2 linked regions of the Homo sapiens genome follow. The protein of the gene in region 1 purifies or fractionates together with the protein of each later gene. This does not show direct contact. Each region holds a gene or a part of one and is shown in the gene's direction. Other genes may lie near its edges.

Region 1 (3,500 bases):
AGGTATAGTAGCTTTTTGTGTTTATGCTTTTTATATGTATTTCAGATTTTTGAAGAGTACTCTCAGGTTGCCATATATGTGCATACTCTCCCAGAATAAGGTTTCTTTATTTAAAAATTATGATAGCATTTCAGGATAGTAAAAAATTAGCTATCTAGAATTCTTGGAATATGCATTATTCTGGCTATTTTAGATTTTTTGATTGCTAAAGGTTTGTGCTTTAAACATTTATGCTGTAGTTGTTTTAATCATTTGGCATGGAATTACAAAATGTATTGGATATTTTGCTATCTTAAAATATACTAAGAACAATTTTATTTTTCTTGATAAAGCAGTTATTATAATGAATATTAATTGGTTGAATCAATATTAATTGATTAAAATAAGTCATAGGATTATACTACAGACTATATAACATTTTCAGTCCTAAAAAGTGTCCTTTGTTACTAAACAAAATGCCTCAAAGACTACTGTTGGCTTTTAAATAATTTTTCTGTTTTTTAGTTTTATGAATACTTTTAATAAATGTTTGATTCCCACTTTCCTGACAGCTGCAACTTTTTGCTTTTGTCACTGTGCCTGCCTCTGGTAGTCTTTAGTCCTCCTTCTAATTATGTTTTCTTAATATTTTTGTGAGTTTTAAAATCTAGCATGTTAGAATTATGCATGAAGCAAGAGTGAATGTCCCTGAATAAGTAAATCAGCTCGGAGTGAGATGAATTCGTGATATATGTTGACACTTCCAAATCTTTTGTCCTTATTTTTTGATTTTCAGCCATGTTCGAAGTAGTTGAGATTGAAGAGTTAGTGGCTGACTTCTGGTCTGGCAATACACTATTTTACTTTAGTATAGTTGCTAGACACTTATATATTCTAAAATGTAAGTTACTGTACAAGTGCTTACTTTTTAGATTTACTGAAGGAATTTTATCAATTGCTTTATTTTAGTTTTATTGATATCACAAAAGGCAGAAAGGAAATTTTGATCATTAAAATCGTGTGGAATAATAATATTTTTGATAGGATTAAACGGTGTAATTTAGCATTAGGAAAATGATGTCTTAAAACACTAAACATCAGAGCCAGTGTATACATTTTATTTTTTAAAATTGAGGTTTTTTTTGTAACTTGATTTTATGCATTTATTTATTGGTCCAGCAAGCATTTATTGAGCACTTGCTATATGTTAGATTTTTGGCTAGGGATTGAAGATTCAAAACGAGTAACTCATTGTTCCCTGCTCTTTAGAAGGATTCAGTCCTCCGAAAGAAACAAATATGAAAATAAGATGGACAGAGGGTGGGATGGGATATAGTGAATATAATAACAGAAATATACACTAGGCAGAGTTGTACTATAAAGGAAAAACTGCTCTGCCTCTATTTGGGAGGATTAAGAAAAGATTTGTAAAGGAAAAGAGCATTTATTTGAAAAGAGTTAATCATAGAACAGATCTGATTCTCTGTGAAGATTTAAATATAGTGGATCCCAATGTAAAATGTAATCTGTATTTGGGACCATGGCCTGAGCACCAGTTTGTTGTTTTGGCTCATACCTATTGAGTGCCCATAAAGTGTTAGGAATTGGTCTGTATACTGGGGCACACGAAGGTGGGGCTGGAGTAGATCAGATCTGATTCCTGCCTCATAGAGCTTACAGCCTACTGGGACAAACATACAATAAACCAGTAAACACACAAATAAATGCAGAATTAGAAAGAGAACAGGGCCTGCGAAAACATCAACTGAATATAATTTTGAATAGGGGAGGTTTTATATAAGGCTTCTCTATGGAAACCACATTTAGGCCAAGACTTCTAAGAGTTAGGTGAAGAAGGAGGGCAGTGGTGTTTCAGGCAAAGAAAGCAGAGTGTACCAAATCCCCAATGGATGGAAAACTTGGTGTGTCACTGAACTTAAAAAAAAAAAAAAGGCTGGAGTTCAGTTAGTGCATGAGGGGGAAGTGGGGAAGCACATTTGCAGAGATAGGCGGGGGCCTGCTCACGTAAGGCCTGGTGGTTTACAATAAGGAATTTGGATTCTATTCCAAGCCCAGTGGGAGGCTATGATAGCATTTTGAGCAAGAAAATTACATCATTTAATTTATGTTTTGAGACGATAACTCTGCCACCAAGGTCTTTGGAGAAAGTCAGAAATGGAAACGAGGAGATAAATTTAAAAATGAATACATTGCCTGCAACAGGAAGAAAAGGTAGTTTGGACAAGGGGGCGACAGTGGAAATGAAAAGAAAGTGAGATCTTTGAGATATGTTTGAATATGAAAAGACATTATATTCCCCAGTGGGGAATAGCCTGGACCTTTCCAGTATGTAACCTCATCCTCTTCTGCAGGAATTAGTAGGCTAACAGAGAGCTTCAGCACAGATGTTTGACTTAGGCACTCTGGGTTTAAATTCTAGCTCTGAAACTTACTAGCTGTGTGACTTTGTGCAAATCACTTAACCACTCTGTGCCTTAGTCCCCTTCAAAGTAAAATGAATATAGTATTAAGACCACATAAGAGAGTATAAGGATTAAATGAGTAAATATATCTGAGCCCTTAGAACAGTGCTTTGATACAGAGTAAGCACTATGTAAACATTTGCTACCACTGTTTTACTCTGAGAGATATTGGTAGGAACTTTGTTTAAATATGATGAGGTTTTTGTTCTTGGCTCACAAGTTACAGTAGTGGGAAACATTGGATCTTGAAATTTTCAGACTAATAGAATTTTAGTTTTCTGCCATATTACTTAATCATTTATGAAGATATACATATTTACTTATAAAGATTATTTCTTTTATTTTTTGGAAACCACATCAAATGTAGATCTTTTTTCCTTTGGAACACATTTCATCAGGGGATCTTAATGTTATCAGTGATGACCAAGGATTTGTCATCACTGATAACATTTTGGGCTGACACATGCTAGATATCTTAAACACCAATTATCACAACAAATCCTTACTCATCATCCTACTGTGTAAAAGGATTTTGAATCATTTTAAGGTTCTTAAAATTTTTAAATAAAAAGCAGGTCAGGGGTGTTGATTCAGTGCTTTCATTTTTCTCTGTAACAAAGGAGGGAAACTAAATCATTGAAAAGTTCACTAAAGACTTTAAATCAAGGCCTCAGGTGGCATGTAGTTTGTGAGAGGCTGGGTAAAAAAAAAATAATAATATTCATCTTCTTTTATTTACTTTTTACCTCCTGCCAAGAAAACAGAATTATCAGTGGTAGCCCAGAAAGGAACAAAAATCACAAAAATGCAGACTGAGGTCTCTGTGGAGTCTAGGAGGGGCAGCCCCAACTCCTTGCTGGTGATGTTAGAAGATGTGTAAGAACGGATTTTGTGAATATGAGCTGATTCCATCTCCTTCTTTCCTCTTCAAACACGTAGGTCCTGATGATGTAAATCCTTGAATAAGTAACTATCAGGAGCAAAGTGAAGCATATGCTAACTTTAATCACATTAAAATTTGTGTACTGGACCTGGTTT
Region 2 (4,259 bases), on another chromosome or scaffold:
ATAACGTAGGTAATTATCCAATAGCACATCCAGACGTGGTGGCTCACACGTGTAATCCCAGCACTTTGAGAGGCCGAGGCAGGCAGATCACCTGAGGTCAGGAGTTCGAGACCAGCCCGGCCAAGGTGGTGAAACCCTGTCTCTACTAAAAAATACAAAATTAGCTGGGTGTGGTGGCGCATGCCTGTAATCCCAGCTACTTGGGAAGCTAAGGCAGGAGAATCGCTTGAACCCAGGAGGGGGAGGTTGCAGTGAGCTGAGATTGCACCATTGCACTCCAGCTCGGGTGACAGAGTGAGACTCTGTCTCAAAAAAAAAAAGAAAAAAAAAGAAAAAAATAATAATCCAACAGCACATCTAAACAAGGCTTAAAGTTGTAAAATAAAATTACACTGTGTGGAGGGTGTGTGTGTGTGTGTGTGTGTGTGTGTGTGGGTGAGAGAGAGAGAGAGAGAGAGATGAGGTCTCTGTCATCCAGGCTGGAGTGCAACAGTGCCATCATAGCTCACTGCGGCCTCCAATTCCTGGCCTCAAGCGATCCTCCCGCCTTGGCCTCCCAAATAGCTAAGAATAGAGGCATGTGTCACCACACCTTTTTTTTTTTGTCGTTGTTTGTTTGTTTTTATGAAACGGAGTCTCGCTGTGTAGCCCAGGCTGGAGTGTAGTGATGCAATCTTGGCTCACTGCAACCTTCACCTCCCAGATTCAAGCGATTCTCCTGCCTCAGCCTCCCTAGTAGCTGGGGTTACAGACACGCACCACCACGCTGGATAAATTTTTGTAATTTTAGTACACGGGGTTTCACCATGTTGGCCAGGCTGGTCTTGGACTCCTGACCTCAGGTGATCCGCCTACCTCGGCCTCCCACAGTGCTGGGATTACAGGCGTGAGCCACCATGCCCGGCTAATTCCTGTATTTTCATACTTAGTTGTATTTCCTATTAGGGCCTTGGATCCCGAGTATAATTTTGTACTCAAATATAATTTATAAATAAGGCCTTAGCCTCCCAACAAGGTCAAAGTAGCTAAAAAGTAAGTCCTCCCAACCACTGACATTACCAGCCCCCAGCCCCCAGTCCCAGCCCAGCGGGCTAACAAGGGTCCGGCCTCAGAGAGGGTCTCGGGGATCCCAGAGGTGGGAAAGTCTCCGGAGGCGCAGGCCCCGCTCTCCACCTTCACCAGGGTCGGCGGCAGCACCACGCCGGGTCGCGGGCTGGCTGTGCGCGCCGCGGCCCCACGCCCACTTCCGCTTCCCGTGCTGGGGGCGGTGGCAGGGCCGGTGGGCGGTGGCGGCTCCCGGTCTCGGCTCGGGCACGGCCCTGGGCAGGCCGCCCGCCAGCCGCAGGGGCGCTCCTGAGCTTCGCGGGGCCGCAGTCCGGGATGCCTGCGCGAAGGGAGGGGCGAAGGGCCGGCCGTTGCCGACGTGGGTGTTAAGTGGCCGCCCCAGCCGGCGACCCGGAGCCGAGAGCGGGCGGCGGAGCCTGAGCTGGACGCGGCCACGCCGGCGCGGCGGTGAGCGCAGCCCGGTCTGGCGCCTGCAGCTGCGGGGAGCGCGCCAGGCAGAGGGAGCGGGGAGCGGGGCGCGGGGCGGGCCTCGGTGTGCGGGCGGCGTGACCTTCCCGAGCGGCGGGGGAAGCGGCCAGCGTCGCAGCGCACGTGCCGCGGGACTCGGAGAATCTCGGGGTTGTCGGCCTCCTTCCTGCAGTGCCCACCTGGTGGGAACTTTTGTCCTTGTTTGCCCCCAAGTCCTGTCATTTGGCTGCGGGGCTCCGCGCCTCAGGGGCGCCAGTGCTGGGCAGCATGGAGCCGCTTGTGAATGGAGACTTGCTGGCTGCCCAGGAGTGGGCGGCTGGGCAGGGGCGGTGAACGTTTAGGGTCCGGCCAAGAAAGTTGGAAGTCGTCTCCCTGACCTGTTCCTTGCGAGGCCCGGGAGGAGACGCGCCTGGCCGGTCCTTGGCGGCGAAACTGATTTGCATCTCCACGCTTTACCTAAAGCCCGGGCTCTGGGGACTGGATGGCGAGCTGGCCTGCGGCTCCTTTAGCCAGAAGCTGGGATCTTCCCGCAGCAGTTCGTGTTCCCTGGTGGAAAATGCAGCCTCATCTACTGACTCTCCCTTCCAAAAAAAAGTTATTTTCCCCAAGGGTCGAGAAAAGTGGGTGGTCGGCACTGTTGTTCCTCAGTTGCACCCTGGTGTAATTTGAGAGAGGGGTCAAAGGCGCTGAAAAGATTCTTTTTTCTATTCCAAGTGCTACAGCAAGCTCATAAATCAATTTTAATTCATGCTGAACAGTCTTGCCTCCTCCAAGCCCTGTGTCTTCTCCAAGCCAGAGCTACACATAATGTGAATTAGCTGCCCACTCCTTCTGAGTGAATCTGTTAGTACCCATCATCGTTTTCTATCCTAATAATTCTAATGGCTATTTGTAGAATTTATTTGTTTGTTTATTTTTTTGAGACGGAGTTTCGCTCTTGTTGCCCAGGCTGGAGTGCAATGGGGCGATCTCGGCTCACCGCAACCTCCGCCTCCTGGGTTCAAGCTATTCTCCTCCCTCAGCCTCCCGAGTAGCTGGGATTACAAGCATGGCCCACCACGCCAGGCTAATTTTGTATTTTTAATAGAGACGGGGGTTTCTCATGTTGGTCAGGCTGGTCTCGAACTCCCGACCTCAGGTGATCCGCCCGCCTTGGCCTCCCAAAGTGCTGGGATTACAGGCGTGAGCCACTGTGCCTGGCCTATTTGTAGAATTTAATGTGTTTAAGTTTGGCTCACCTAACAGGGTTTAATTCTTAGGGACAGATAGAATGTAATGTGATGTGACTTTCCTTCAAAATTAAGAAGGAAGTGTCTGTGCCAAAAGAAATAAGCGCATTGAGGTTTATCTAGGAGGCCACATTGTACTTGCCTCTGTCTGTCTGCTCAGTTGCCCCCGTTTTTTTCTTTCCCAAAAATATAGGGTTGGGTGTTTTGTGTTGCCTTTGGCCAGGTTGAAATACTCAGATTAACGGTTGGTTTGTAGGCACAGGCCTGAAAAGACAGGACTTTGAACTGAATCCTCTGTCACTGACAGTTGTGTGGCCTTGGAGAAGACCTTGTCTTGCTCCAGGCTTTAGTTTGCCTTCTGGGAAAGGATTAGGACCCTGATAAACTTTTTATTTATTTATTTATTTATTTATTTATTTATTTTATTTTTTATTTTCTATTATTATTATTATTTTTTTTTTTGAGACAGAGTCTCACTTTGTTGCCCAGGCTGGAGTCCAGTGGCACAATCTCGGCTCACTGCAACCTCCACCTCCCGGGTTCAAGTGAATCTTCTGCCTCAGCCTCCTGAGTAGCTGGGACTACAGGTGTGCATCACCACGCTGGGGTCATTTTTGTATTTTAAGTAGAGACAGGGTTACACCATATTCGTCAAGCTGGTCTCAAACTCCTGACCTCGTGATCCTCCCACCTCAGCCGGCCCAAAGTGCTGGGATTACAGGCGTGAGCCACCGCGCCTGGCCAGGACCCTGATAAACTTTTTTAGGAAGATACCAGATGGCCACCACCTTTTCAGCCTAGTGAATGGTCCTGTCTCTCCAGACCTATCAACAGCATATAAATCAGTGTCTTGCACTTCTAACTTAGTTGCTTTATTAAGTAATGTGCCGTTGTTGCCACTGGTTTTAAATTTTTTGTGAATAAAGGAGGATTATTGAAGTCTCGTCGTTGGCAAGATGCTTCAAGAGGTTTAAACAACTTCTCCACGGCCAATGTTTCCTGTTGACGTTCAGGGTGACATTGGTGTTAGGAGCGTGCTTGGTGTTCATCTCTGATCCAGCACGATGGGTCACACGGCTCCTCAGTGTGATGAGGAATAAGTTGTTCCTTATTATTTGCAAATAAGTTACTAACACCGTTTGAAAACTGTACAGGATTGGTCGTTGAGTTGGATATTTTAGTCAACATTTATTAAGCCCATGCCTCAACAGTAGTTGACTTTTGTCTAAAGAGAGAGAAAGAAATTCTAGTTTTCCCAAATGCCCAAGGCTCCAACCAAAACATACTGAATCCAGATTTCCAGAGGAAAGTCCTGGCAATTTGGATATTTAATAAGTGCTCCAGGTTATCAAGTGGATTTGGACACAACGGCCCAGGTGTTGTATCTCAAAGTGTGAGTCTGTGGACTGGCACTGTCCGCCTCACTTGGGAACTCATCAGAACAGGCAGAACCTCTGGTCCTGTCCAAGGCTACTGAATCAGAGGCCGCATTTTATT

Evidence for each region. Proteins that work in one complex are often made in the same cells at the same time.
Region 2: the proteins of EYA4 (region 1) and SLC25A15 purify together in Homo sapiens (affinity purification with mass spectrometry, with the first as the bait; one large-scale study listed by BioGRID). This does not show direct contact.

Annotation. Positions count from the first base shown.
Region 1 is NC_000006.12:133,464,857-133,468,356, forward strand, and holds part of EYA4 (protein phosphatase EYA4), read left to right. Parts: coding exon 1-2; intron 3-3,500. UniProt on the Homo sapiens protein: Tyrosine phosphatase that specifically dephosphorylates 'Tyr-142' of histone H2AX (H2AXY142ph). 'Tyr-142' phosphorylation of histone H2AX plays a central role in DNA repair and acts as a mark that distinguishes between apoptotic and repair responses to genotoxic stress.
Region 2 is NC_000013.11:40,788,152-40,792,410, forward strand, and holds the start of SLC25A15 (mitochondrial ornithine transporter 1), read left to right. Parts: upstream 1-1,459; 5' UTR 1,460-1,512; intron 1,513-4,259.